Linked DNA regions of Homo sapiens: regions 2 and 3 are each linked to region 1. The links come from fine-mapping of genetic effects on gene expression. A gene starts in region 1. Each other region holds a variant in brackets. All regions are shown on one strand. Distances are from middle to middle.

The links. PIP is the estimated chance that this variant, and not a neighbour inherited with it, causes the effect. A credible set is the group of variants that fine-mapping cannot tell apart.
Region 2: its variant is the best candidate, but not a certain one, in a credible set for the expression of CAPN2 in whole blood (INTERVAL, PIP 0.65).
Region 3: its variant is the best candidate, but not a certain one, in a credible set for the expression of CAPN2 in whole blood (TOPMed, PIP 0.50).

The regions. Positions count from the first base shown.
Region 1 is chr1:223,706,755-223,717,253 of GRCh38, forward strand. It overlaps CAPN2 (calpain 2), which reads left to right and starts at 5,785. Exons shown (of 21, transcript NM_001748.5): 1 at 5,785-6,123. The coding sequence starts at 5,887. It overlaps LOC105373281 (a long non-coding RNA gene), which reads right to left and starts at 896. Exons shown (of 3, transcript XR_949164.2): 1 at 614-896. RefSeq lists enhancers at 1-1,104, 1,105-1,604, 5,382-5,431, 5,471-6,422 and silencers at 5,532-5,921, 6,132-6,251.
Region 2 is chr1:223,671,271-223,681,458 of GRCh38, forward strand. LOC105373281 (a long non-coding RNA gene) reads right to left here. Exons shown (of 3, transcript XR_949164.2): 3 at 6,548-6,812. Among named protein-coding and RNA genes, the nearest start is that of CAPN8, 11 kb to the left of the region's middle. The variant G/T (reference allele first, on the strand shown) is at 5,408.
Region 3 is chr1:223,685,178-223,695,676 of GRCh38, forward strand. It overlaps LOC105373281 (a long non-coding RNA gene), which reads right to left. Exons shown (of 3, transcript XR_949164.2): 2 at 5,595-5,651. It also overlaps the pseudogene RNU6-1248P. Among named protein-coding and RNA genes, the nearest start is that of CAPN2, 22 kb to the right of the region's middle. The variant A/C (reference allele first, on the strand shown) is at 5,944.

The sequences.
Region 1 (10,499 bases):
TGCAAAATTAAAAAGGAAGCTTTGGTTAGTATCTCCAGAACCTGGCTAGGCACGGTGGCTCACATCTGTAATCTCAGCGCTTTGGGAGGCCGAGATGGGTGGATCACCTGAGGTCAGGAGTTCAAGACCAGCCTGGACAACATGGCGAAACCCCGTCTCTATTAAAAATACAAAAATTAGCTGGGCATGGCAGTGAGCCCCTGTAATCCCAGCTACTCAAGAGGCTGAGGCAGGAGAATTGCTTGAACCCGGGAGGCGGAGGTTGCAGTGAGCCGAGATCACGCCACTGCACTCCAGCCTGGGTGACAGAGTGAGACTCCACCTCAAAAAAAAAAAAAAAAAAATCCAGAACCTGCAGATTGTGCCTCTGATGCATCTCAAACATCCAGGGCCAGGGAGAAAATAATCTAAAGAAAAATACTACTGAAAAAGATTCCATTGCCATGGCCCTCTGAGACACACACATTCTTATTCTCTTATTTTCTCTCTCTCTCTCTCTTCTTCTCTCTCTCTCTCTTTCTATCTCTCTCTCTCACTCCCTCTCTCATTTACTCACAAGGTCAGTGGCCCAGACCCAGGCAGTTCTGGATAATCCCAGCTGTTTCTGACTCACCACCATCCTCAGGGCTGGCTGACTCACTCCAGGAAGGTTTTCCACCATGAAGTGTTTGTCTATGTCCTTGTGTTCCCGTGAAAAGGATTGTGTGGTCAGAGAAAGAGAAGACTTTGCTGGGTCAGTGAGATAGCATAGTGTGAGAGGCTTTGGGAAGTAGAAAAAGCAACATTAACTCAGGTTTAAAAACTAGACTTTGTCCAAATGGTTGGGGAAAGTAGTCATTGTATGTGTTTGCAATTAAATTTGGGTGGCATAGGACAGCCTAAAGCCCTTTGTAAGCAGAGCTCTATGTGCGCAGCGATCCCTAGAAGGCTGGCAAGGGGAGTGGCCAGGGCTGCACCAAAGAGGGTGTTGCCTAGCTGGGGAAGAGGAACTTCAGGTGAGCCAGGAGGCTCTTCTGCTCCCAGGCTGTGCAAAGCTTCTGAGTTGACTGGAATGATAGGTCTGATCTGCCCATTTGTTGCTAAAATGACTTAGGAGGGAAATGACCTCCACCTGCCTGGGAGGAGTCACTTCCTCCAGAGATGAGCTGTCCTTGAGGAGATCAGTGGGAGGAGAAGCCTGCGCTCTGCCCCACTGGGCAGAAGGACAAGCTTTCTCCCAAGAGCCTCGAGCCCAGAAGAAGTCGGGGTGGGGCCAATGGAAATCAGACAGTGGAACAAATGAACAGCTTCCAGGACAGGGCTGTCGCTTTCCTCTGTTTTCAATTGTGATGGCTTCATGAAACCCTTGCACCAGAAACCCATGAGCTAGAAATGAATGCCTGTATCCCCATCTCTGGACTCAGAGTCCAGAGTGCCAACCATTACACAATGGAACCTGTGTCCCCGCCTTATTCAAGAGTAAAGAAAGCAAAGCCTGGTGGTGGACGGTGGTACCTGCCCATCAGGCAGCATGCCCAGACTTGCAAACCAGAGATGGAGGATGTCAAATAAAAACAAAACCATGGGAGACTGAGGCAGGAGAATCACTTGAACCGGGAGGCGGAGGTTGCAATGAGCCAAGATCGCGCCATTGCACTCCAGCCCGGGCAACAAGAGTGAAACTCTGTTTAAAAAAAAAAAAAAATCCAGACTTTTATAAAGGGACACTTCAATAGAAAGAAAGACTATTGCAGGCCAGGCGCAGTGGCTCACACCTGTAATCCTAGCACTTTGGGAGGCCAAAGCAGGTGGATCACCTGAGGTCAGGAGTTCAAGACCAGCCTGGCCAACATGAGGAAACCCCGTCTCTACTAAAAATACAAAAAAATTAGCTGCACATGGCGGCTGGTACCTGTAATCCCAGCTACTCAGGAGGCTGAGGCAGGAGAATCACTTGCACCCGGGAGGCGAAGGTTGCAGTGAGTGGAGATTGCACCACTGCACTCCAGCCTGGGCAACAAGAGTGAAACAAGAAAGAAAGAGCGAAAGAGAGAGAGAGAGAGAAAGAGAGAAGGAGAGAAGGAGAGGAAGGGAAGAAGGGAGGGAGAAAGAAAGAAAAAATAGAGAAAAAGAGAAGGAAGGAAGGAAAAGAAAGAAAAGAGAAGAGAAAAGAAAAAAAAAGAGAGAAAGACAATTCCAATTCAGAGAATCTGCAAGCAGCTCAAAATCAAACAGAAAAAGATTCTTCTTTTCTAGGGTAAAGGAGGAGCAAGTGGAGATAAGCAGACTCTTGGGAGGGGAAGCTGGACAAGTGAGGGGAAATGACCAGTGGGAGCTGACAGGAAAAGGGTCTTGCTGTGTTCAGTCAATTCCCAGGAGAAGCTGGGCAGGGAAGTGACTTGGCAGGGACACTCCACTTTGTTTGTGCTTGTTCAGGCTTGGGGGCAAGCAGCATTCAGGGATCTGTAGGAAAGAGAGAAGTCTGACCAAAGTTTTGTCAAGCAAAGGGGGTAAGCAATGGGTGTCAGAGACAAGAATAGATGGGGGCAGAGGAATAATAGTGACAAAAATACTTGCTTTAAGAAAAGGTAACATCATGGCTCTCATATTAGTATAAAATAAACACATTTTAAAGATTCCATTTCGGCAGGGTGCAGTGGCTCACACCTGTAATCCCAGCACTTTGGGAGGCAGAGGTGGGCAGATCACCTGAGGTCAGGAGTTCGAGACCAGCCTAGCCAACGTGGAGAAACCCTGTCCCTACTAAAAATACAAAATTAGCCAGGCATGGTGGCAGGCACCTGTAATCCCAACTACTCGGGAGGCTGAGATAGGAGAATCACTTGAACCTGGGAGGTGGAGGTTGTGGTGAGCCGAAATTGTGCCATTGCACTCCAGCCTGGGCCAACAAGAGTGAAACTCCATCTCAAAAAAAAAAAAGAGTCCATTTAACTTGATTAAACGAGGCAATCTGGTGGATGTTATAACTGGTTCAAAGGAGAAACCAAAGCAGCACAATTTACATGACGTGAAGAGTACTGAAATGGAATATGCAACTAGACAAAAAACTGGTCTCTCTACAGGGGGACTGTAGTGCCTCTACTGGACAGAATGCATTTGCATATCTATAGGAAAAATTATTTTCCATTGCTACAGTTATCTACAACTTAGATTACTTACTTAGAGTTACTTAGGTAACTATACATTGCTACAGTTATATACAACTTAGAGTTATAAAATAACTCAAAAACAATGAAAGGGGCTCGTGTGGTGGCTCACACCTGTAATCCCAACACTTTGGGAAGCTGAGGCAGGCGGATCACCTGAGGTCAGGAATTCGAGACCAGCCTGGCCAACACGGTGAAACCCCATCTCTACAAAAAATATAGAAAATTAGCCAGATGTGGTGGTGTGCACCTGTAATCCCAGCTACGTTGGAGGCTGAGGCAGGAGAATCGCTGGAACCCGGGAGGCAGAAGATGCAGTTAGCTGAGATCGTCAAGATCCTGTCACTGCACTCCAGCCTGGGTGACAGGGTGCTACATCTCAAGAAAAACAAAAACAACAACAACAACAACAAAAACAATGAAAGGCTAGACCCAGATCTTCTGGAAGGAGATGCTCTAAACCAGGGTTTCTCAGCCTCTACATGACTGATGTCTTGGACTAGATCATGTTTTGGGTGGAGAATGTAAACCAAAAATAAAATTCTAAGCCTCCCCCTCCCCTACCCCCGCCAACCATCTAAATGGATGGTTCCTCCTTAGCCGAGGCTCTTAAAATTTTAACCTGAAATTTTCAGGCCATGAAGGAAAGGCAAGGTCGGACATGCTTCATTATACCTCTCCAGCGTGAACATCAACCAGAGTTTAGGTCTGATAAGAAACATTTTACTGCCTGTTCACTCTGAAGCCTGCTAGCTAAAAGCTTCATCTATGTGATAAAACTTTTGTCTCCACAACCTCTTATCGCAACCCAAACATTCCTTTCTATTGATCCTGGGCCTTTAGACAAACTCAACCAATTGTCAACCAGAAAATGTTTAAATATTTACCTATATCCTGGAAGCCACCCCCACTACCCACCCACCACCCCCCGCCACTTTGAGTTGTCCCGCCTTTCTGAACCAAACCAATGTATTTCTTAAATGTACTTGACTGATGGCTCTTGCCTCCCTAACATGTATAAAACCAAGCTGCACCCCAACCACCTCGGGCACATGTCCTCAGGACTTCCTGTGTCACAGGTGTGCATCTTCAACCATGGCAAAAGAAACTTTCTAAATTAAATGAGACCTGTTTCAGATTTTCTGGGTTCACAAGAGCTATCTTGGACATTGGAAGATGTTCAGCGGCATCCCTGGCTTCTACTTAGTAAAGGCCAGTAGCACCTCATCTCCTAGCTGTGACCATAAAAACTATCTCCAGACATTCCCAAATGTCTCCTGGGGTGGGTAGGGGACAAAACTGCCCCCAGTTGAGAACCACTGCTGTAGACCATGCACAGTTTTCCAGTGAAACCCAAATTCTTCCCTACTACTGTAGAGAAGAAGAGGAGGTAATTTCTGCCCATCTGCATTTCTTGGCACGCACCCATGTCTCTGTGTGTGAGATGAGAATCACACCCTAGCTCCACAACAGAGTGGTCACAGTAGCCAACACAGGCAGTATTCTAAATGCTCTCTCCCTATAGTAACCCAACTAATCCTGCCAGTTAAATATGAGTTTCAGGTAAACAATGAATCATATTTTCTTTTAGAATAAGTATGTATGCCCATGCAATATTTGGGCCCTACATATACTTTAAAAGTATCTGTTGTTTATCTGAAATTCAAATTAAACATTTGGGAGGGTTGTTGTTTTATTGGCCAAATCATTTTATTTTATTTTATTTTTGATATGGAGTTTCGCTTTGTCACCCAGGCTGGAGCGCAGTGGCGCGATCTCGTCTCACTGCAACTTCTCCCTCCTGGGTTCAAGCGTTTCTCCTGTCTCAGCCTCCCGAGTAACTGAGATCACAGGTGCCTGCCACGACGTATTTTTAGTAGAGACGGAATTTCACCATGTTGACCAGGCTGGTCTCGAACTCCTGACCCCAGGTGATCCGCCTGCCTCCGGCCTCCCAAAGTGTTGGGATTACAGGTGTGAACTACCGCACCCAGCCTTATTGGCCAAATCTGACAACCCTATCTATAATCAAATAAACAGCTGAGCAGTAGTAATTGCAGCATTGTGATTGCAATAGGCCTCCGGTGGCTTAGAGTCCCTGTTCTGCCTGTGACTGTTGTGCCACATTGGGGACGTCATTTAGCGTCTCCGAGGCTCAGTTTTCTCATCTGTAAAATGGGGACAATATCAGCGCCTTCTTCAGAGTCGCTGGGAGGATTAAATGAGATGATGTATGCAGAGCCGTTAAGACGCTGTTTGGCACAAAGTTCAGGGCAGCTGGTTTAGTTTCCTCGACTTCACTACCTGACCCTCTGCTAACTCCCCGGGTGTTTTCCGGACGGCCACAACTATCCTAGCCTTCTTCCCTATGGGCTGCAAAGGTGGCCTCGGGTTCCGGTGGGAGCCCCAACTCTGGACCGCGATTCGCGAGCCTCCCCGGCGCCGGGCCGCGCCATCCCGGGAGCTGTCCGCAGATGGCAGCACCGGCCCCGGGTCGCGGCGTTCCCGGCGCTCGGCAGGCCGCAGGATGGCCTGGTCCCGGGCCGGGAGCCCAGCAGGCCGGGAGCGGCTGAGGCCACACCCCGCGGGCCGGGCCGCTTCCCTCCGGTGAATCATCGCTCGCAGCGGCGGCGCCCGCAGTGGCCGCAGCAGCGCGCCGGGCCCTGGCCGCGCCCCAGCCGAGCGCAGCGCGGAGTCGCCCCGACCTTTCTCTGCGCAGTACGGCCGCCGGGACCGCAGCATGGCGGGCATCGCGGCCAAGCTGGCGAAGGACCGGGAGGCGGCCGAGGGGCTGGGCTCCCACGACAGGGCCATCAAGTACCTCAACCAGGACTACGAGGCGCTGCGGAACGAGTGCCTGGAGGCCGGGACGCTCTTCCAGGACCCGTCCTTCCCGGCCATCCCCTCGGCCCTGGGCTTCAAGGAGTTGGGGCCCTACTCCAGCAAAACCCGGGGCATCGAGTGGAAGCGCCCCACGGTAGGAAGCGCGCGGCAGGACGCGGGCAGGGCGGGGTGCCGGGCAGGGCGGGGTGCAGGCCGGCCCGCGGCGCGCTGGGGCGGGGGGCAGCCCGGGTGCTGCAGTGGGGAAGCCGCAAGCCAGGACCTCGCAGTCCTGCGACACCTCCGCGCCGCCAGAGCCCGGGACTCTGTTCGAGCGTGGGGGGACTCCCGGGGCCTTCCCTCTCTTCCACCCACCACGCTTTCCTGGGCGGGTCGAGGCGAATCACTGCCCTCAGATCCCACTAGCAGGCCACTTTAGGACTTCACAAAAACTCAGGGTGATGCAGGAGGCCGGGGTGAAACTTTGATTGGACTCTAGCGGGGAGCTGGAAGGGAAGGGGAATCGGGTCTGCAGGGAAGGGACGGTGAGAGGCAGCATCTACCAGACAAAGTCCGTCTCCAACTGGGGTTCTGTCTGTTCATGGAGGGGGACAGGCCATAGCCTGGTCATTTTGTGACTAAGGATAGTCTCCTGCAGCCCTGGGGTTAGATTTATTTTTCCAAAGGGGAGCCAGCGATACCTCCTCATAACATTGACACTGGTAATTAACCCAGGACACGGAGGTGTCTCATGGTTTCCCTGGCGGGAATCACCCGGGAAACCTCCGGGAGCCCTCCAGACCCCCTTATCCCGTCCCCCAGGGTCTCTGACCTCCCGGCCCTGGGACAACTTGTGCTCCCCAATCTACTTGTCCATTCTGTTTCTTGGGGAACCCCTGAGGCTCCTCCTCCTTTGGGACACTTCCCCAGGCTTCCCCTACCACGCCTAGGAAAGCCTGCCCTGAAGTCCAACTTCTAGATTCCTGTTGTGAGAACAAGGCTTCCAGCTCTGCTTCCACACCCAGCAGCCTCCCAGGTCACCTTCTGTTACCCTAAATCCAGCCCATAGGTAGCAAGGGCTGCAGGAAGCGCCCTAGCCCAGACTCAGAGCACTTGGGTTCTTCTTCTTGCTAACCTGCTGGTGACCTTGAACGAGCCATTTAACCTCTCTGTGCCTCCATGTCTTCATCTAAAAGAAAACATGCTGCCTAAATATTTTCTCTCTTTTGTGGCCCACTAGGCCCTGCCGTCATGGCCTCCTTTCAGTCTCTCAAAGAGCCGGTTCTTTCCTGCATGAGGCCTTCTCACCAGCAAGGCACGCTGTTACCTGGAGTGTGGCTCACTCTCATTCTTCCCAACTTAGTCACATGTTCCCTTCCTAAAGAGGTCTTTTCTGACCCTTCTTAGCAGCCACCTCCCCACCTTGTTTTTCTCTGTCACCCCACTCATTTCCTTCATAGCATTGTCACAGTTTAGAATATAATCACATGTATTTGTTCTTCCTACTGAACTGCAGGAATCATGTGTATATTATTTACCAGTATATCCCCAGTGCCTGACACATAACCATGCCTTTCACAGTATTCATTCATTCATTCATTCATTCATTTACTCACTCATTTGACAACACTGATTGAGCACCTGTTACATGCCAGGCACTGTCCTGAGAGCTCAGGAGATACACCAGTGAACACAAAAGAAGTGACTGTTTGTAGAATATGGATGCAGGATTGTAATGTGCCTCAAATGAAATTATGGTTGTGAAAGTGATACGCTGACCTGACTCAGTGCCTCACACCTGTAATCCCAGCACTATGGGAGGCCAAGGTGGGAGGATCGCTTGAGCCAGGAGTTCAAGACCAGCCTGGGCAACACAGTAAGACTTGTCTCTATAAAAAAGTAAAAAAAAAAAAAAAAAAAGTGAAACACAAACCAAGAGAATGTGTTCACTTTACATTTGCATGGCACTTTACAGTTTACATAGTGAGTTCACATACTCATTCACTTATTCTTTCATTCATTCAGTAAGCATTTCTCGAATACCTACTATATGCTGGGCACAATGCATATGGTTTCTGCTTCTGAAGACTTACTTCTGAGGCTAGTGAGGGGACAGAGACAGGTCCCCCAACAGTTGGAAATGCCTGTGGGACTTCCAGATGAGGATGTAGAGGTCTAGAGATGATCTAGCGCCACTGCTTAGGGCAGGCGGGCTGTGCACTGCACAACTAAGGAAGAGTGTGACTTTTACGATCCCCATTTGCCAGTTGAAGAAATTGAGGCTTGGGAAGGTTAAATACTTGCTCAGAGTCAAGTGGATATAGGGCATAGATCCAGGACTGTGTGTAGTCTGTGCATGTTGAGCCTACCCCTTATGGCTGCGCTCTCTGCCTCCTTCCTACCTTCTCAAATGCTGCTGAGGTCAGGCAAGGGGAGCACAGTTGTTTCCGCTGGATTTGAACACTAGCAAGTCATTGGTGAGTTTAGCAGAGCAATTTCAATGGAAAGGTGAGAGTAGAAGCCAGATTGTTGTAGACTCCAGAGTAAAGGAACTGGAAATTAAGAACATGATCAACTTATTTAAGAAGGACCCCCGGGAAGAGAGGAGAACTGATAGGTAGAGTAGGACCTGGACTTTGAGAGCCTGTGTTTTTTTCATATGAGAACAACTTGAATGTGTCATATGTTGAATCACCAGGAAGAAGGGATTAAAGATAAAGGCAGGGAGGGGGCAGTGAAACAGGATCCCTGAGGAAGTGAGAATACGGGTTGTGGGCAGGGGAGGGGAGCAGGTTAGCCTTGCAGCAGGAGGAGCTGCTCTTCCTCGGAGAGAGGATTTCACAACACTGGCAAGAGTGGCTCCAGTGCCTGGAGCGGGGATTAAAGCAGTAAGTCCAGTGGGGTCCAAGGGCCATGCAGGGGTACAGTGAGGAGAAAGCAGGTGTGATCCGGGTGGCACATCAGATCCTTCCAGCAACCAGTCTGTTAGGAGCAAGGGCAGATGTTGTGAGCCCCTATGTTTCCCCCAAGAAAATCAAACCTCTGAGAGGTTTCTCACTTGCTTATCTTCAGCTGGCCGAACTCAGCCTCAAACCCATATGTCCTGTCTCCAAGTTCAGTGACTGTTATCATCAACTTCTTCAACAGTAATAATAATAGATCACATTTATGGAGTGCTTGCCAGGGCATGTTTACATCATTATCTCATTTAACACTCAGAACAATCCTCTGTGGTGGGTGTTTTCATCGTTCCCATTTTGCAGGTGAAAAAACTGAGACTTCAAAAGGTTAAGTGACTTCCCAGGGTCCTACGACCTACATAATAAGTGGCAGAGCCAGGATTCAAACCTAGGTTATCAGAATAATGCAGCAAAGCCCAAACCCTCAGCCCCTTTTCACTGACTGGTAAGACCCATATTTAATTCGATGCCCTACATGCCGTGCACAAGTTTCAGTTTTCTGAAGCATCGCTTAGATGCTTAGGTGTTTAGCACCACTCTGAACTCTGACTTTTCTAGAGAGGCTGCTAAAGGCATTAGAAAGTTTCTGAAGTATAATGGAAAAACCCTGCTGGAGTAAGTGCCTGGCACACTCAGGATTATCAGTGTGATTCTTTATAATAAACAGGCTCCCAGCACCAAGCCCAATCTATTCCATCAGCTGGATAAGAGCTCTCTGGCAGGCCTTGGGCCAAGCTGGCTTCCTTTGCCTCAGCAGAAGAGCATTCTGATTCTCTCTGCCATCCCCAAAACTGACAGGAGCAGAGAGAAACAAGGCAGAGGCATGAAGGGAATGTCCTCTGCGGCAGATGGTGCTTCCGGAAGAGCTCCCACAATCTGAGCTAGAATGAACAGGGGCTAGATCCAAGTCTCATATAGGCATACTTCTGCTTGACAGAGTGGGCATGCCGAGGGCCGTTGGGTGGAGGCAGGCGTGTGCAACCCAAGCAGACATGAGACGCAGCTCCTTCAAGGCAAGGTTGCCTGAGCCCAGAGAGGCTCAAATTTGTGCCCCAACTTCCTCTGTGGCTTTTGGGTGGGGCTCTTCAGAATCGAAACACACTCAGAGGGCTGCTGAAAGGGCTAAGAAGTGTTCAAGGTTGGCTTCCATCAGGCTGCTCATGACAATGGCCCCTGAGGTTTTAACACCCTTGAACGCTTGGTACTAAATCAATTAGAGGCAGGGCAGGAGCAGAAAGAGTTGGCGCATTTGATCAGTAAGTTCCAATGCCAGTGCTGTCTATTATCTGTGAACTGTGTTAACTTTGGACACGTCACTTCACCTTTTTGAGCTGTTTCCTCGTCTGTAAAAGGGGGATAATACCCATTCCATGAGGTAAAGCTTTGAGCACAGTCTCTGATGTAAGCAGGTACAGAATATATAGATGCTGTAAGTTTCATGGTCCCATGGAAGAATTCAAAAGGGTTAGATCCCGCCTGCCCTCAAAAGGGTATGTGTTAGGAAATCAGAGTAATACCTAAGTAGTAAATTGCAGAGTCCAGAGACTCTGGGACTCAGACTTGAAGGGATGAG
Region 2 (10,188 bases), 36 kb before region 1:
TGTAATACCAGCTACTCAAGAGACTGAGGCAGAAGAATTGCTTGAACCCAGGAGGTGGAGGTTTCAGAGAGCTGAGATCGCGCCACTGCACTCTGGCCTAGGTGACAGAGCAAGACCTTGTCTCAAGAAAAAGAAAAAAGAAAAGAAAAGAAAAAATCGAAAGACAAATAGACACCATGCCTGCCCACAAAGAACTTCCATGCAGTGGAAAGACCAGGCAATGCTCAAAGAAAGAGTGGTTGATTCTGAGGATGATGAGTGATAAGGAGGGCTTCATGGAAGAGGTGGCCTTCCAGTTAGATCTGTAGGATAAGGTGCTTGAAGGATGATGATTTTGAAAGAAGGCAGTGTAAAAAGGGCATTGGAGTCAAGGGGAACAGCAAGAAAATGGCAAGAAGGAACAGCTCTGCACACAGTGCCAACAGAATATTAATTATCTAGAATGAGATCATTCTAGATCACTCACTCCTGGAGTGAGGCAGGAGGCAAACAACAAGAGGAAAAGACACTGGGGGCCTTGAATGCCATCCTAAATGGATGTGGACTTCTTCTCTATAGTTAGGGTGCAGTTGCTCTGAAACAAGCAAGAATCGATGATGGCTTAATTCAGGTAGTGGCACTGGGGCTGGGCAGGTAGGGAGAGGAGTTCCCAAGTTTACCTCCTCTGTGAGTCCCAGAGGCTGGGGATGAGTGTGGAGGAAGGGAAGACACAGCCAGGATACCTCTTGTGATCTTGTGATTTAATAAGAAATAAGTATTTTGGTCTTTGTCCTCAGTTCCTGGCACAAAGCTTCTAAAATCTTTGTAATTTCCTGGGTGATAAATGTGCTAGGAGCATCTTTTGTTGTAATATTTGGTCTTTGACTCTAGTTCCTGACAGAGCTCCTAAATCCCTGGAATTTCCTGGGAATAGAAGAGTCTTTTGTTCTAATAAGGTGACTCTTGTGGGCTCCTGAATGGGGGCTAGTCACAAGAAAGACCAAGCCATGATTAGAAGCTTGGAAAAAGCCAGGCAAGTTGCTTCACAACTGTAATCCCAGAACTTTGAGAGGCCAACGTAAAAGGATCGTTTCAGCCCAGGAGTTCAGCGCCAGCCTGGACAACACAGTGAGATGATATCTGTACTAAAAATAAAAAATAATAAACTAGCTGGACATAGTGGTACACACCTGTAGTCCCAGCTACTCAGGAAACCAAGGCAAGAGGATTGCTTGGGCCCAGGAGATTGAGGCTGTAGCGGGCCATGTTCATGCCACTGTACTCCAGCCTAGGCAACAGAGAGAGACCCTGTCTCAGAAACAAGAAAGAAAGAAAGAAAGAAAGAAAGAAAGAAAGAAAGAAAGAAAGAAAGAAAGAAAGAAAGAAAGAAAGGAGGGAGGGAGGGAGGGAGGGAGGGAGGGAGGGAGGGAGGGAGGAAGGGAGGGCTTGGAACTTTCAGCCCCACTCCCCATCTTCCAGGCAGGGGAGAGGAGCTGGTGACTAGGTTGATAATCCATCATGCCTATGAGATAAAGCCTCCATAAAAATTCCTGAGCTACAAAGACCTAACAACAGAGCTATCATTATATCTGGCAATCCCATTACTGGGTATATACCCAAAGGAATATAAATCATTCTGCCATAAAGATACATGCAAGCAAATGTTTCTTGCAGCACTATTCACAATAGCAAAGACATGGAATCAATCAAAATGCCCATCAATTACAAATTGGATAAAGAAAACGTGGTGCATATACACCCTGAAATACTATGCAGTCAAAAAAAGAACAAGACTATGTCTTTTACTGAAATGTGGATGGAGCTAGAGGCTATTGTCCTTAGCAAACTAATGCAAGAATACCAAATACCACATGTTCTCACTTGTAAGTGGGAGCTAAGTGATGAGAACTCATGAACACAAAGAAGGGAACAACAGACACTGGAGCCTACTTGCAGGTAGAGGGTGGGAGGAGGGAGAGGAACAAAAAAAGAATAACTATTTGGTACTAGGCTTAGTACTTGGGTGATGAAATAATCTGTACAACAAATCCCTATGACAGGAGCTTAGCTATATAACAAACTTGCTGTATTAGTCCATTCTCACACTGCTATAAAGAAATACCTAAAACTGAGTAATTTATAAAGAAAAGTTGTTTAATTGGCTTATGGTTCTGCAGGCTATACAGGCTTCTGCTTCTGAGGAGGCCTCAGAAAACTTACAGTCGTGGTGGAAGACAAAGGTGAAGCAAGCACATCTTACATGGTGGGAGCAGGAGGAAGTGTAGGGGAGGTGCTACACACTTTTAAGATAGCACTAGGGGGATGGTGCTAAACCATTAAACCACCCCCATGATCTGATCACCTCCCACCAGGCCCCTTCTCCAACACTGGGGATTACAAATTGACATGAGATTTGGACGAAGACACAAATCCAAACCATATTCTGTCCCTGGCCTATCCCAAACTTTGTGTCCTTCTCACATTGCAAAATACAATTATCCCATCTCAACAGTCCCCCAAGTTTTAACTCATTTCAGCATTAACTCGAAAGTCCAGTCCAAAGTCTCATCTGAGACAAGACAAGTCCCTTCCACCCATGAGCCTGTAAAATCAAAAACAAGTTAGTTACTTCCAAAATACAATAGGGGTATAGGCATTGGATAATTACTCCCTTTCCAGAAGGGAAAAATTGGCCAAAGCAAAGGAGCTATAGGCCCTATGCAGGTCCAAAACCCAGCAGGGCAGTCATTAAATCTTAAAGCTCTGAAATAATCTCCTTTGACTCTGTGTCTCACATCCAGACCACACTGGTGAAAGGGCTGGGCTCCCAAGGCCTTGGGCAGTTCTGTCCCTGTGGCTCTGCAGGGCTCAGCTCCCATGGCTGTTCTCAAGGGTGTTGAGTGCCTGTGGCTTTTCCAGGTGCACAGTGCAAGCTGTTGGTGGATCTACCATTCTGGGGTCTGGAGGATGGTGGTCTTCGTCTCACAGCCCCACTAGGCAGTGCCCCACTGGAAACTCTGCATGGGGGTTTCAACCCCACATTTCCCTTCTGCACTACCCTAGTAGAGGTTCTCCATGAGGGCTCCACTCCTGCAGCAGACTTCTGCCTAGACATTCGGCCATTTCCATACATCTTCTGAAATCTAGGCAGAGACTCCCAAGCCTTAACTCTTGTCCTCTGCACACCCACAGGCTTAATGCCATGTGGAGGCCACCAATACTTGCAGCTTGCACCCTCTGGAGCAGCTGCCTGAGGCATATCTGGAGCTTGAGCCGCCAGGACACAGGGAGCACTGTCCCGAGGTTGTGCAGGGCAGTGGGGCTCTGGGTCCAGACCACAAAACCATTCTTCTATCCTAGGCCTCTGGGCCTGTGAAGGGAGAGGCTGCCATGAAGTTTGCTGAAATGCCTTCCAGGCATTTTCCCCATTGTCTCAGCTATTAACATTCAGTTCCTCTTTACTTACGCAAATTTCTGCAGCTGGTTTGAATTCCTCTTCTGAAATTTTTTTTTTCTCTACCACATGGCCAGGCTGCAAATTTTCCAAACTTTTATGCTCTGCTTCCCTTTTAAATAAAAGTTCTAGTTTTAGATCATTTATTTCCTTATGCATGTGACTGTAGGTTCTTACAAGCAGCCAAGTCACATCTTGAATGTTTTGCTGCTTAGAAATTTCTCCCTCAAGATACCCTAAATCATCTCTCTCAAGTTCAAGTTCCACAAATGTCTAGAGCAGGGGCATAATGCTGCCAGTCTCTTTGCTAACACATAGGAAGAGTAACCTTACCCCAGTTTCCAATAAGCTCCATCTGAGAGGTCTCCATCTGAGACTTCCTCAGCCTGGACTTCATTGTCCATATCACTATCAGCATTTTGGCCACAACAATTCAACAAGTTTCTAGGAAGCTCCAAACTTTCCCTCATTTTCCTGTCTTCTTCTGAGCCCTCCAAACTCTTCCAACCTCTGCCTATTACCCAGTTTCAAAGTCATTTCCACATTTTCAAGTACCTTTATAGCAATGCTCCACTTCTCTGGTACCAATTTTTTTTATTAGTCCATTCTCACACTGCTATAAAGAAGTACCTGAAACTGGGTAATGTATAAAGAAAGGATGTTTCATTGTCTCACAGTTCTGTAGGCTGTATAGGCTTCTGCTTCTGTCAAGGCCTCAGGAAACTTACAATCACAGCAGAAGGCAAAGGGGAAGCAAGCACATCTTACATAGTGGGAGCAAGAGGAAGGAGGGGTGCCACACACTTTTAAAACAGCACTAGAGGGATGGTGCTAAACCATTAAACTGTTCCTATGATCCAGTCACCTCCCACCAGGCCCCTCCTCCAACACTGGCAATTCCAGTTCAACATGAGATTTGGGTGGGGACACAACTCCAAACCGCAGCACTTGCACATATACCCCTGAACCTAAAATAAAAGTTTAAAAAATAATAATAAAGAAAGAAATCTACACACACACACACACACACACACACACACAGAGAGAGAGAGAGAGAGAGAAAGAGAGAGAGAGAGAGAGAGAAAGAGAGAGAAAGGCAAGGTCACAGCTAAAAAAAAAAAAAAAATCCCTGAGCTACAGAATTCAGAGAGCTTCCAGGCTGCTGAACTCATGGAGGTGCTGGGAGGGTGGTGTGCCCAGAGAAGGCATGGAAGTTCTGCACCCCTTTCCCCATACCTTGCCTGTATTTGTCTGTTCTCATGCTGCTAATAAAGGCATATCTGAGACTGCATAATTTGTAAAGGAAAGAGGTTTAATGGACTCATAGTTCTACATGGCTGGGGAGGCCTCACAATCATGGCAGAAGAGCAAGGAACATCTTACATGGTGGCAGGCAAGAATAGGACATGTGCAGGGGAACTCCTCCTTATAAAACCATCAGATCTCATGAGACTTATTCACTATTAAGAGGATAGCATGGGAAAGACCCACCCTTATGATTCAGTTACCTCCCACAACATGTGGGAATTGTGGGAGTCACAATTCAAGATGAGATTTGAGTAGGGACACAGCCAAGACATGTCATTGCCCTGTGCATCTCTCCCATCTGGCTGTTCCTGAATTGCATCGTTTTATGATAAACCCATAACTTAGTAACTTTTCTCTTTGCTTTCTGTGAACTATTCTAGCAAATTAGTGAACATGAGGAGGAGGTCGTGGGAACCTCCAATTTGTAACCAAGTCAGACAGAAGTTGTGGGTGACCTGGGGACCCACCACTTATGATTGGGCTCTGAAGTGGGGATGGTCTTGTAGGACTGAGCCATTAACTTGTTCTAACTCCAGGCAATTAGTGTCAGAATTGAGTTAAATTGTAGGACACCCAGCTGGTGTTGGAAAATTGTTCAGTGTGGGGGAAAAACCCACACATCTGGTGTCAGAAGCGAAATGTGTTGTGAATAGAGGAAAACAGTGA[G/T]TGCTTCTTATATGCCTCTGAATGCTGGCATTTGACAGAGACCCTAACCTCATCTACCCCAGAAGCTGTAACAGTTCAGGACTCATATTTAGCGTAAATAGGGAGATATTTTGATTTCCTCTGAAAGAAAACTACTAGCTAGAAAAGGGACAGGCTGGGTGCAGTGGCTCATGCCTATAATCCCAGCACTTTGGGAGGCCAAGCCCAGGAGTTCAAGACCAGCCATGGCAACATGGCAAAACTGCTGTCTCTACAAAAAATAAGAAATTCACTGGGTGTGGTGGTACACACCTGTAGTCCCAGCTACTTGGGAAGCTGAGTTGGGAGGATTGCTTGAGCCCAGGAGGTCAAGACTGTAGTGAGCTATGATCATGCCCATAAATAGGCACTGCATTCCAGCCTAGGTGACAGAGTGAGACCCTGTCTCAAATAAATAAATAAATACAATACAATACAATACAATACAATACAATACAATACAATACAATACAATACAATAAAATACAATACAATAGAAAAGAGAGGGCATAAATGTGGAGAGTCCTCTGACCTAGTCTTAGAAAACAAGGCCATGAAGGTAGGAACTGTGTCTCTCTCAAGTTCATCGTGCAACCCTTCACAGAGCTCCACATGCAATATGGGGACTTACGAGTGTACTTTGAGGTTGTTCTTGCTGGGCATGTCACTATATCACATGCTTCCCTGACCTCAGTTCCTGCTGCCAAGCAGCCACAGATGCACCTGCATCAGTTTTCTCTGTCTCTACTGGATCGTTTTCTTTCCCATACAAGTTTGCTATAGTTTCTCCTGCCTTAAAAAAAGAAAATGTTTAATCTCTCTTGACTCCATGCCCCTGTCCTGTTTCTTCTTTTCTTTCTTTTTTTTTTTTTTTTACCTTGAGTCTTGCTCTATCACCCAGGCTGGAGTGCAGTGGCACGATCTCGGCTCACTGCAGCCTCTGCCCCCTGGGTTCCAGCGATTCTCCCGCCTCAGCCTCCTGAGTAGCTGGGATTACAGGCCCATGCCACCATGCCTGGCTAACTTTTGTATTTTTAGTAGAGACGGGGTTTTGCCATGTTGCCCAGGCTGGTCTCGAACTCCTGACCTCAGGTGATTCGCCCGCCTTGGCCTCCTAAAGTGCTGGGATTACAGATGTGAGCCACCATGCCGGGCCTCTTCCTTTCTTTTCACAACAAAATTTCATGAAAGTGGTGTGTATTCTCACTGTCCTTTCATTTCTGTCCTGCCTTTCTCTCTTACCATCCCTCTGGGCAGATGGTCAGGGTAAAACCATTGGCCAATATCCAGGTGGTCTTGATGTTGCTCAATCCAATGGTTAACTCTCAGTCCTCTTCTTAGTTGACCTGTAAGTAGCTGATTGGACTCAGGTCGATGCTCTTTCCACCTAGAAATAGAGAGGGGGATGAATTTCAGGAGGGATGTTTTTGAGTGGCCAAGAGGAAATCAAATCTAGAGCCCAAGGGGAGAGGTTGGCCTTAGGACACAGACAGTTCATCCCTTGTCACAGGGTAGATGGCAGACACAGTGTGAGGATAGATGTCACAGTTGGACCTTGGGAAGTTCTGTTTTCAGTGCTTTGACCTTTCTCTTGGAAATAGGAGTGAAGGGCATTAGCTGAGAGTGAGAATGGGGCAGAGGTGTTGGAGATTTGAGAGAGAGAGAGGAGGTATAAAGTAAGTGATCTGGCCGGGCATGGTGGCTCATGCCTGTAATCTCAGGACTTTGGGAGGCCAAGGCAGGTGGATCACCTGAGATCAAGAGTTTGAGACCAGCCTGACCAACATGGTGAAACCCCATCTCTACTAAAAATACAAAATTAGCCAGGCATGATAGTGCATACCTGTAATCCCAGCTACTTGGAGGGCTGAGGCAGGAGAATCACTTGAACCTGAGAGGTGGAGGTTGCAGTGAGCCAAGATCACACCATTGAACTCCAGCCTGGGCAACAAGAGCGAAACTCTGTCTCAAAAAAATTTTTAAATAAAATAAAATAAGTGATATTGAAAATTGGATAAGAGACATGATGCTGCCAGGTGGCATTAAGGGCCAGTTGAGTTAGTGACTATCAATTTAATGTAAGACAGATCAACACATATATTATTTATTTTTTGCAGATGACAAATTTTCCCAAATTCAGTGGTCTAGAACAGCATATATTTATTATCTTACCATTTCGGTGCATAGGGAATTTGGGAATTTAGCTGTATGGTTCTGACCTCTAAGACTTTCATGAGACACCGACTGCAGCTATAGTCAACTGATGGCTCAGCTGTGGTGGGAGGATCTCCTATCAGGATGGCTCACTCGCATGGCCATGGGCAGGAGGCCTCGGTTCTTCATTACGTAAGTCTCTCCTTAGGCTGTTTCAATGTTATCATGACACGGCAGCTGACTTCCTCCAGAACAAGTGATACAAAAATCAGAGAGGGAACTGCTTTTTACAATCTAGTCTCTGAAGTTGTCTACTCACTTCAGGTTTATTCTATTCATTAGAAGCAAATTGCTATGTCCAGCCCACTCTCAAAAGAGGAATTTACCTCCACCTCTTAAAGTAAGGAATACCAAATAATTTATGGGCATTTTTTTAACTACCATACCTTGATTGTGTGCTTTATTCCAGTCACACTGAGCTGTACAGGCACAGGTCAGGCATGGGGTAGATGGAAAGTTGGATTAAGTAAGTTATGAATATGTGAGAGCAAGAAATCTAAGAACCAGAGCCTTGATGGTGCCAGGCCTCCCAAAATCAGCAGGTGAATTCTGCTGAATGTCGGCTGCACATGGCTCCAGCAGGCTCAGCACCAGAACGGTGGGTCCTTACGCTGCTGCACGCCCATTAGCAAGCTTCAGCTCTGGTCACCTGTCTAATTCAGTCCTGCTGTCCGCTGGCCTCGTTGAACTACTCATTATTTTTTGTTTGTTTGTTTGGAATTGAAGTCTCACTCTGTCGCCCAGGCTGGAGTGCAGTGGCATGATCTCAGCTCACTGCAACCTCCACCTCCAGGGTTCATGTGATTCTCCTGCCTCAGCCTCCCAAGTAGCTGGGATTATAGGCGCCTGCCACCACGTCCAGCTAATTTTTGTATTTTTGGTAGAGACAAGGTTTCACAGTGTTGGTCAGGCTGATCTCGAACTCCTGACCTCAAGTGATCTGCCCACCTGGCTTCCAAAGTGCTGGGATTACAGGCGTGAACCACCGCATCCGGCTGATTACTCATTGTTTTTGCTCCGGCAAAACTTGGACTTCCCCATGGCCTATCATAGCCTCTCCAGCTCCAACTCTGTCTTATGACTTGCCTAATACAGCTCTCACAACTTACTAGCAAATAATCCCTTTGTGTTTCTCTGTCTAAATTGCCAAAAGAGAAAAATCTAATTGGCCCTGGTACCTTCTTAAGCCAGATCACACAGGTCCCATGTCACTGACCAAGCTAAGGGACTGGTTGCTGTGGCACATAACATCAATGCCCACACCCCTTGGAGCCCTGTATGTTTGCAAACTCACAAGCTCTGGTGTGCTTGCAACCCCAGCAGCTAGCCCCTGACTTCCTTGGCCAGAGGGCTGTACCTCTCTCAGCCTATCAGAGCCACCTTGCCAGAAGTGGCTCTCTAACTGGGGACATATGCCCCCTGGGGTGCTTGGTAACATGCTGGAGCACCAACATGATGTTTTCTTGGACTATTCATTCTATTGAAAGTTTTTTTTTTTTTTGAAAGAGGAATTCTTAACTTTTTTTTTCTTTTTTCTTTCTTTTTTTTTTTTTTTTTGAGATGGAGTCCCACTCTGTCACCCAGGCTGGAGTGTAGTGGCACGATCCTGGCTCACTACATCCTCCACCTCCCAGGTTCAAGCGATTCTCCCATTTCAGCCTCCCAATAGCTGGGATTACAGGCACCCGCCACCACGCCTGCCTAATTTTTGTATTTTTAGTAGAGATTGGGGGGGTTCACCGTATTGTTCAGGCTGATCTCGAACTCCTGAGCTAAAGTGATCTGCTTGCCTTGGCCTCCCAAAGTCCTGGGATTATAGGTGTGAACCACTGCACTCGGCCAATTTTTAATATTTTTAATAAGAATTATATACGGGAAGCTGCCAGGCTCTAATTTCAAGGAGTGCATATTAGCTCTTCTCCATGTAAAGGGTCTTTCTCTTTTCCCTGTTTAGTGGAGAAATTTTGAATGTGGAAAATATAACATATGCATACAAATATATGAAATAAAACTCATGAAAAAAAGAAAATATATACACGAAGATCAGAATAGTGGTCTCTTTCACCCTGAAGAGTGGGAAACGAAGTGAGGAAGGAGCATATAGAGAGACGTAAGTTTTAAGTAATTTTTTAGTTCTCGGGTGGGGTGGTGGATACATAGGAATTCATCATACTTTTTGTTTTGTTTTTGAGACAGTCTCAGTGTTGCCTAGGCTGGAGTGCGGTGGTATGATCGTGGCTCACTGCAGCCTTGACCTCTTGAGCTCAACTGATCCTCCCATCTCAGCCTCCCACGTAGCTGGGACCACAGGCACACATCACCATGCCTGGCTAATTTTTTGTATTTTTTGTATTTTTTGTAGAGATGGGGCTCTCCCTATGTTGCCCAAGCTGATCTCAAACTCGTGGGCTCAAGCAATCCTCTCACCTTGGCCTCCCAGAGAGCTGGAAATACAGGCATGAGCTACTGTGCCCAGTTCGTCATACTACTAATAATAACTTAAAGAAATTAAAGAAAGCCATGTGCTGGCCAGGCACGGTGGCTCACAC
Region 3 (10,499 bases), 22 kb before region 1:
ATATAGAAAAGTTAAAAATAAAAGTACAGAAAGAAATGCATGCAAACACCAAAAGAAAGATGATATAGCTATATAATATCAGAAAAAGAACACCCTGAGGCAAGAAGCATTATTAGCGATAAAGAGAAACATTTCATAATCATGAAAGATCAATTCACTGGGAAGATGTAGTAAAACTGTATACTTATAACAACATAGCCACGAAATATGTACAATAAAAATTGGCAAGACAAAAAGGAAAATATGCAATCTTAATATGAGATATTAATACAATACTCTTAGTAACGGATAGAACAAGCAGACAAAAATACCAATAAGGATATAGAAGATTTGAATAACACAATTAACAAACTTAGCCTCCTTAGCATATGTAGAATACTGCACCAAACAGCAGCAAAGTCCGTGTTCTTTTCAAATGCACATGGAGTATTTACCAAAATTGGCCACCACACACCCCACAGTCCTGGTGGCATGGGCACATTTTGTGCATAGTTGATTGATATGGGAGACTGTACCTGACCCAACATGGGTCAATGAGTTTTTTCCCTAGATTTTTGGACTTGAATCTGATGGTTGAAGCTGTGAAAAATAAAGTTTGGGCACTTTTCCTCCCACCTTGAAAAGGGGATCCCAATGTTATCTGAGTCTCTGTTTAGGTTATTCCTGAGGCATGCGTATTCTACCTTGGTTTTACAATGACATTCCAGAATCTTTAGCATGCATTTACTTTGGACTTTTTTTTACCGTGATAAAATATATATAACATAAAATGTACTAGGTTTAGCATTTAAGTGTACAGTGCAGTGGCACTAAGTACATTCGCATTGTTATGCAACCATCACACCATCCATCTCCAAAACCGCAGGTTTCATCTTTTCATCTTCCAAGACTGCAGCTTTATCTCCATTGAGCACCAACTCCACATTTCCCACTCCTTGTATCCTCTAGCAACCATCATTCTACTCCTAGACTACTTTGTGACTCAGTTTCTCTGTCACTTAAGAGAAGAGAGGCTCCATTGCTGACTGCAGGGATTGCTTCTGTATATGCAGGCCTTCTTGCATCTATAGGATTAGGTTTACTGCAGGGAAAAAAGGTAAGAGAAATATACATCATATGGGTTTTTGGAGGAAGAAAAGAGGCGACAGCACAAAATGGATGAGGTTTTCGTGTTGGGTGTCCTGCACACAGGACTCAGCAGCCCTGCCATGTATCTATCTGCCCAACTCTTTCCCATGGAGTTCATCTTGTGGGCCACTTCCAAATTATAGATCCACAGGCAAGTTTCACAGCTCTGTCGCTGTCACCTGTGGCAAGCTTCTCATAGTGCCTCTGTGGCTTAATGTCATGAGCCCCTCCATTGTGAGCATTCTGTTTAGGGTCCTGCACCATCACAGCCTGGCAATGAGCTTCAGATGTTTTGCCATAACCTTAGATTTAAGTCATCAAGCAGCAGGACCAAGACCTATCATGCATTTACTTTTGTTTTTGGCTTAATTTGAGTTGGTTTTTTTCCTTGTACAAAAAGAATCTCTGTACACAGACTCCTATTAATTTTTTTAATTAATAGTTTTATTTTTCAGAGCAGTTTTAGCTTTACAAAAAATTGAGAAGAAAGTAAGATGTTCACACACACACAGCTTCCCAATTATTAATGTCTCACACTAGTGAGGTACATTTGTTAAAATCGATGAACCTATGTTGACATGTCATTATCACTGTAGTTTACTTTAGGGTTCCCTCTTAGTATGGTATATTTTATGGGTTTTGACAAATATATGATAATATGTATCCACCATTATAGTATCAGACAGAGTATTTTCACTGCCCTAAAAATCCTCTGTGCTTTGCCTGTTCATCTACCCCTCACCAAACACCCAGAAATCTTTTTTTTTTACTGTCTCCATTGCTCTGCCTTTTCCAGAATGTCATATATTTGGAATTATATGTTATGTAGCCTTTTCAGACGGACTAGTGATATGGTTTGGCTGTGTCCCCACCCAAATCTCATCTTGAATTGTAGCTCCCACAATTCCCACATGTTGTGGGAGGGACCCGGTGGGAGGTAATTGAATCATGGGGAAAAATGATTTGAGCATCTATCATCACAAACAACCCCATTCTATCTCTAATAATGACTTTTGCGGGTCTTTGCAGTGCTGTTCTCATGATAGTGAATCAGTCTCACAAGATCTAATGGTTTTAAAAATGGGAGTTTCCCCGCACAAGGTCTCTCTTGTCTGCTGCCATATAAGATGTGCCTTCACCTTCTGCAATGATTGTGAGGCCTCCCCAGCCATGTGAAACTGTGAGTCAATTAAACCTCTTTTTCTTTATAAATTACCCACTCTCAGACATGTCTTTTTCAGCAGCATGAAAATGGACTAATACAACTTATTTCACTTAGTAATATGTATTTAAGTTTCTTCAATGTCCTTTCATAACTTGATGGCTCCTTCCTTTCTTGCTTTCTTTTTTTTAATTTTAACTATACAATAAAGCACTAAGCTAAAGAAATTAAACTATGGAATATCTATCTGCTGGCTGGTGGGGAAAATGTGAGGAGCCTGGAGCTTCCTGGAAACACACAATTTCCTCCACAATCTTCGCTGACCTTCCCTTGAGTTATCCCTCTTCCTTTTTAACATTCCTCTTGATTTGAGCCTCTATCATCACAAACAACCTCATTCTAACTCTAATAATGATTTTTGCCTTAAAGTATTATGTCTGATTTTAATATAGTTATGCCAGCTTCCTTCTCATACTGTTCACATAGTATATCTTTTTCCATCATTTTATTTTCAACCTTTCTATATCTGTATCTTTATGCATCATTCTGTTAATATATATCAATCCATCAGTGACTGATTCTCTGATTCCCTAATGTTTAAGCAATTTCCTTTTTTTTTTTTTTTTCTTTTTGAGACAGGGTCTTGCTCTGTCACCCAGGCTGGAGTGCAGTGGCACGATGATGTCTCACTGCAGCCTGAACGTCCCAGGCTCAAGTGATCCTCCCACCTCAGCCTCCCAAGTAGCTGGGATTACAGGCACACATTACCATACCAGGTTAATTTTTTTTTAATTTTTTGTATAGACAGAGTCTCACTATGTTGCCCAGCTGGTCTCAAACTCCTGGCCTCAAGCGATCCTCCCACCTTCACCTCAAAGTGCTGGAATTACAGGCGTGAGTCACCACACGAGGTCAATCTACTATTCTTGACCTCAGCTATTGGCTGTGATATATTATCATATATAGAGAGCTGGATTTGGTTTGCTACTGTTTTCTTCAGAAGAGAAAGCAGGATGTTGCTCAGCCTGGGAGGGTCATGCCCTTGGTTGAGTTAGCTCTCTGCAACTGAAACAAACTCTAAAGGATTTGAGACCTGGAAACTTTCTGCTAATCCCACCTCCCAAAGTTGGGGCAGTTCACATCCAATGACTGATAGAAGTAAGGTATAAAGACACAGACATTTTGGCTTAATCTAGCATCTCTGATGGGCCGTGTATGGTCCAGAACATCCCATAGGAATGGCCAAAGCTTTGTCACAATTGCATCACATTTTGACTTTTCCCTCTGCCCAAGACTGCTTCCTCCTCCTCTCATCCACGGATGTTGATTCCTAATAAATACTCTGTACACCAAGCACAGTCTCGGCATCTACTCCTGGAAAACCAGCAACAAGGTCAGCAGGGCTAGCTAGCTTCATGGGCAGCAACCTATGCAGTCATAAGGGCCCTGCTCCAAGAGGGGCCCCATGCTTAGGTTAATACTCTTGTCAACTAACGAGTGGTGAGGTTCATAAATTTTGAAATAAGAGGTTTATTTCTCATGAAGTGTTGCAATCTGCAAGGTGGCCATTCCTACAGGCTGGGAAGTGTAGCCTGTGACAGAAGTCAGAAGCAGGTACTTCGAGGCAGGGATGGATAAAACAGGAATGTATAATGAATGGCTTGGCTAAGTATACATATTTAGTACACAATAGGAGGAGTCATGAATATTTATGAAAAGAGAAACATGTGCATGTGCAATTGGGCTTCATGCCTCTTTATGCGTCACATGTTCAAAAAATGATGATGCTTGCATGATCCAAGGGTGGAGTTTTTGGCCCTCTGACATCAAAAGGTGAAACAGAGAACACAAAAACCATCAACGTGCATCTTCTGCAAACTGCTGAGAACCACTCTGTGGTCAGTGATCTCTTACCAGGAAGGAATGCTGGTTAGTTGCTGTGTTAAAACCACAAAAAGGCCAGGCACGGTGGCTCACACCTGTAATCCCAGCACTTTGGGAGGCTGAGGCAGGTGAATCACGAGGTCAGGAGATCTTCAAAACCATCCTGGCTAACACGGTGAAACCCCGTCTCTACTAAAAATACAAAAAAAATTAGCCGGGCTTGGTGGCGGGCGCCTGTAGTCCCAGCTACTCAGGAGGCTGAGGTAGGAGAATGGCGTGAACCCAGGAGATGGAGCTTGCAGTGAGCCAAGATCACGCCACTGCACTCCAGCCTGGACAACAGAGCGAGACTCCGTCTCAAAAAAAAAAAAAAAAAAAAAAAAACCACAAAAAGGAAGGGGGAGTCCAGTCATGGCCTCAGATGACTGGCTAAAGGCAATGAAGTAGAGTCATCTGTATCTTGTTCCCCAGGGCTGATTTCCGTGTACTCCTTAGGAAAAATTTCTGGTTAAAGATGAATAAGGATAGGGCATATTGAGGTGTATCTGACCTCCCATCCCCTTATGGCTGGGAACTCAGTTTTTAAGGTTCCTCTGGGGTCCACTTGGCTGAGAGGCACTCCATTCAGTCGGTTGGGAGGCTTAGGATTTTATTTTTATTTCTTACTCTGCTGTCATCATCTTGAAAATATAAATTTTGGTGCTCACTTCAGCAGCACATATACTAAAATTGGAATGATACAGAGAAGATTAGCATAGCCCCTTTTTAAAAAAAAAATATATATATATATAAATTTTGATGGCTTTAGAAATGATTTGCAGAGAAGTGAGTCAGAAAAATCTTATGACCAATCAAGATTTCACATTAATAAAGTATTATTATCCATTGTATTATATAAATTGGTGAAACAAAAAATGGTACATTTTTGCAATTTGTAGGTTTAGTCATTACTCATATATCACTATTATCCCTATTACATTTTATAAAAATTGTTTTTTTAAAAAAAAGCTTTATATTTTAGGGGTTTGTTCGTTTGTTTGTTTTGAGACAGAGTCTCACTCTGTTGCCCAGGATGGAGTGCAGTGGCACGATCTTGGCTCACTTCAATCCCCACCTCCCAGGTTCAAGCGATTCTTGCCTCCCAAGTAGCTGAGAATACAGGCGCCCCACCACCGTGCCCGGCTAATTTTTGTCTTTTTAGTAGAGACAGGGTTTCACCATGTTGGCCAGGCTGGTCTTGAACTCCTGACCTCAAGTGATCCGCCCACCTTAGCCTCCCAAAGTGCTGGGATTACAGGCGTGAGCCACCGCACAGGCTTTATATTTTAGTATTTTAATTACAGTTTTTTTCCTGCATTTTTAACAAGATAAGCACATTTTCATTTTGCACCCAGCGCTATAAATTATGCAAATTACATACCCAGCAGGGAGGATAGGTTCCTGTGAAGATGATTGTCCCTGGTTGTCCTGTAGGAGTCTAGGAGAGAAGAGTGACACTTTAAGCTATTATCTGTTATTTGCAACTTCATGTGACTGACTTTCAGATACTTTGATGAAAGAAGACTTTTAAATGTGTGAAAAAGATCTCCTCAGGGCACTGCATACAAGGAAAACAGGGAGACTACCATCAAGGTGGGAAAGGGTGATACAACAGGGCCAGGGACCTGATGATAAACTCCAGATTTCACCAAGAGTTAGGCTTTGTTAGAATCCTGTTCCTAACAGGACACAAATCACACAGCGAACTATTAAAAATGAGAGCAAAGCAC[A/C]CAGCACAACTATTAAAAACTAAAAATTAAGCTGTCATTTATATGAGTCATTAACAAAACTCCCTTATCACCAGAAGTATGCTAACACCATATATAAAATTGAACATGTGGGGACATCATTCAACCTCTTGTTTAAAACTGGCTTTGAATGGCCCAACTCTAGAGAATTAGAATGCTTTTTATTATCTGGGGTCCTCTGGAGAGAGATCAACTTCTCAGAGTTCTAAATAGAGAAAATTATCTGGAGTTAATTAAAGTACGCCAATACTGTCATTTTCCACGTGGGGTGGAAAGAACTAATGTGTAGTTAGGATATCAGCAAAAGGCTAGTAGAAACACGAAGTCACTGGTAAATTGAATGCACAACTCCTGGGAAGTGATCAAAACGCAACTGTTTTGTATATTCTGCTACTTGTCTGTTTGTTATTTCTATTATATGTCTATGGCCACCTATACAAAAAGTGAGGGCCCTATTTTCATGTGAAAGGAACCGCCACAGTTAGAAACACTCTAACAAAGGGTAGTGGAGTAAACCAAGCCACTCCTGTTCTAAACAGATTTTAGATTCAGAAAGAATCGCTCTCTCTTTTTTTTTTTTTTTTTTTTTTTTTTTTTTTTGGAGAGATAGGATCTAGCTATGTTGGTCAGGTTGGTCTTAAACTCCTGGCCTCAGGCAATCCTTCCTTGGCTCCCAAAGTACTAGGATTATAGGCGTGAGCCACCACGTGCCCAGCCAGATTCAAAAAGAATCTATTGAATAGGGGGGAAACTAAGTAATTCAAGAGACTTTGTCTATAGCATTTTGACTATATCTTCTCAGTAAGGACAAAACGAACTATAAACAAACATTGAACCCTAACCTAGTTGGTAGTTGTAATTTTCATGGTAGTATGGGTTTGTGATTCTAAAACTACTTTCTGTGTATTCTTGAATTAAATAAATAAATAAATATATTCAGAAGGATGAAAGCAATATCTCTCACTGTTGGAGAAGAGAATTACAAATATGGAAAGAGGGAAGGTTAAAATAAATCACATTGTGGTCATTTGGAATTGGAGGCCAATTTAAATTCAAGTGGCAGGGTATAATTTTTTTTTTTTTTTAGATAGTCTCTGTCACCCAGGCTGGAGTGCAGTGGTGCAACCTCAGGTCACTGCAACCTCCACCTCCCGGGTTCATGCAATTCTCCTGCCTCAGCCTCCTGAGTAGCTGGGACTACAGGCATGTGCCACCATGCCCAACTAATTTTTTGTATTTTTAATAGAGATGGGGTTTCACCATGTTGGCCAGGCTGGTCTCGAACTCCTGGCCTCAAATGATTCACCCACCTGGACCTCCCAAAGTGCTAGGATTACAAGTGTGAGCCACCACACCCAGCTGGGTATAATTTTTTTTTTTTTTTTTTTGAGACAGTTTCGCTCTTGCTGCCCAGGCTAGAGAGTGCAATGGCACGATCTCGGCTCACTGCAACCTCCACCTCCGGGGTTCAAGCAATTCTCCTGCCTCAGCCTCCCAAGTAGATGGGATTATAGGCACCTGCCACCACGCCTGGCTAATTTTTGTATTTTTAGTAGAGACAAGGTTTCACCATGCTGGTCAGGCTGGTCTCAAACTCCTGACCTCAGGTGGTCCACCCACCTTGGCCTCCCAAAGTGCTGGGATTAAAGGAGAGGCTCTGCACCAGCGTGGGTATAATTTTTTATGAGTTAAAATTGTATTTTATTTATTTACATTTATAAAGAGAGCATTATGTTTAGATTTATGTACCTGGTTTTTTAAAAACTCGTTTACCTAATTAATGAGAGAATGAGTGGGATGGTAAAGTTGGTTTCAAGAGAACTTGAGAGATTAAGTATTATAGGCACTGAATAAAAGATGTTAAAATAGAATTTTGGGGTGGTATACAAAACTGGTTAATGTTATACAGGGCAAGAAGACTATAACCTTTGGGATTTAGGGTTTTTGTTTATTTGTTTGGTTTTTATTTTTTATTTTAGCTTTTGTTGTTTTATTTTTTTTCCCTGAATGAAATTATTAGTAGCTATACTAGACAAAAATCTACATGCTAGTATGTAACGTTATGGTCTTGGCCCCATTCAATAGTGAATAACAAATCAAATCAAGGTACATTCTCCTAAAGAATAAGAAAATTCATCCTGGCATGGTGGCTCACACCTGTAATCTCAGCACTTTGGGAGGCCTAGGTGAGCAGATCACCTGAGGTCAGGAGTTCGAGACCTGACCTGGCCAACATGATGAAACCCCATCTCTACTAAAAATACAAGAATTACCCGGGCATGGTGGCAGGCACCTGAAATCCCAGCTACTTGGGAGGCTGAGGCAGGAGAATCGCTGGAACCTGGGAGGCAGAGGTTGCGGTGAGCCGAGATCTTGCCACTGCACTCCAGCCTGGAGACTCTGCCAAAAAAAAAAAAAAGAATAAGAAAATTCTTGGCTGGGCCTGTTAGCTAGAGAGTGGACAGAGTGTCCTCTAATACAGAGAACAGAGATCTGTCTGCCTTGAGGCAATAGAAGCAATTCCAGTAGCACTAAGCACCCAGATCTTGGTTTCTAAATACTATTCCTCACTAAAAAGAAAAAGAAGAAAAAAAAAAGGCTCCTTGAAGAAATGCTTAATTTCCCCCCACAAAAAAAGAAATGTTTAATTCCAGAACTAGGGCAGAAAAATTATAAGTGGAATCTGGAATAGCTTCATGTTCCAGGAAGTAAGGGGGTGCTCGAAGAATGATGAGGACACGGCAGAAGGGCACAGGAGCTGTCCTGAAGGGACTCTCCCTGGCAAAATCTGGGGCAATTTGAGCATCAAAATAAATAATAATAGTAATGCATTTAATCCATTGAGTAATATAGGAACCTATCTGCCCTTATTTATGTAAATAACTGGGAGATAATGGAAAACTCTTCCTAGCAGTCGTATACCAGCCAATAAAGGAAGAGGAAATATTATAATTTTTAAAAACACTATTTTATAATAATCATAGTAGTGGTTGGTTCAGGCAATGAATGTAAAACTAGTAGGTAAAAGTTTGTTGAGGAACAGAATATGTATATGGTCTCAAAGTAGTTCCCAAAAAATAATTGATTAATTTCAAAGGTATTTTAAAAATAGTAATTTTACAATGAAGAAAATGACAGCCACCACCTTCACTAAATTCTCGAAATTATCATCATCAGAAATGGGGCAAATCGATATCATGTGCCTCCTGATGTAATGTCCTGAGAAAGACATATCACTTTTATGATATTATTGCCAAAAATGCATAACTTCAATCTATTCATAAAGAAACATCAGACAAATCCAAATTGAGAGGCATTCTACAAACTAACTAGAGTGTGTTCTTCAAAAATGTCAAGGTCACAAATGACAAAATAAGGCTGAGGAACTGCCCTAGATTAAAGAATACTAAAGAGGCATAATGACTAAAGGCATTTCATGATCCTGTATTGGATCATTTACCTGAGAAAAAAATTATGAAGGTTATAAAAGATATTATTGGGACAATTGATGATATTTGAATATCAATTAGATTAAATAATAGCAATATGCCAGTGTTAAATATTCTGACTTTCATACACCCTGAAGTACTTAGGAGTAAATGGGCACAATGTCTGCAACTGATTCTCAAGTGGTTCAGAAAAAATATACACACACAGGCACACAGCACATATATGCATATGTAATGGGGATATAATGCTATGTATATGCATATAATGGTGTGTATGTAGATGGATGGATGGATGGATGGTAGAATAATAAAGCAAAAATGAAGCAAAAGGTAAATAATTGGTGAATCTGGGTAAAAAATATGCAGGAGGGGTTTGGACTAGTCTTGCAATTTTTCCATAATTTTTGATAAAGCTGAAGTTTATTTTTTTAAAAATCCTCCAAAAGACCCCCCAAAAGATTGGTGTCAACCTCCATCATATCAGTTCAGGGTGTGTAGTCTTAGGCAGACTGGTTTGGCCACACTTCCCGATCAACTAACAGGGAACAAGTGAGATGAGGCTAACGAGGCACCATCCTCCCCTTTGGATCATAGGCAGAAAGGACCAGAGTGGCAGGCGGCCCTCCAGCACATGAGGCTCATTTCTCAGTGGAATGGCCAGGGACAGCCCCAAGCCACAACAGACTCACCCCCACATACACACTAATACCTGTGGAGGGGAAGCCTGGTCTCCTCTGGCCCCTGGCACTCTCTATCCGGAGGCCCTGCTATCTAAGATGTGTTCTTAGTCACAGTGCTATGAACCTCGGACTTCTTGCAGGAGAACAGGGAGAAGAGGCCTCAGAACATTAGTTTGCAGCTGCAGCTCCCTCTCCTGCATGTTTTCATGAAGGAAAATACCGTTAGACATTAAACACCCAACGTTCAAAATCTTAGACACGAAGTTGGGAGAAAAGGGAATTAGTACTCATCAGATTTTTTGCTGAAAAATGAGAGATAGTTTTAGGGGGCGGGCCCAGTGGCTCACACATGTAATTCCAGCACTTTGGGAAGCCAAGGCAGGTGGATTGCTTGAGCTCAGGGGTTCAG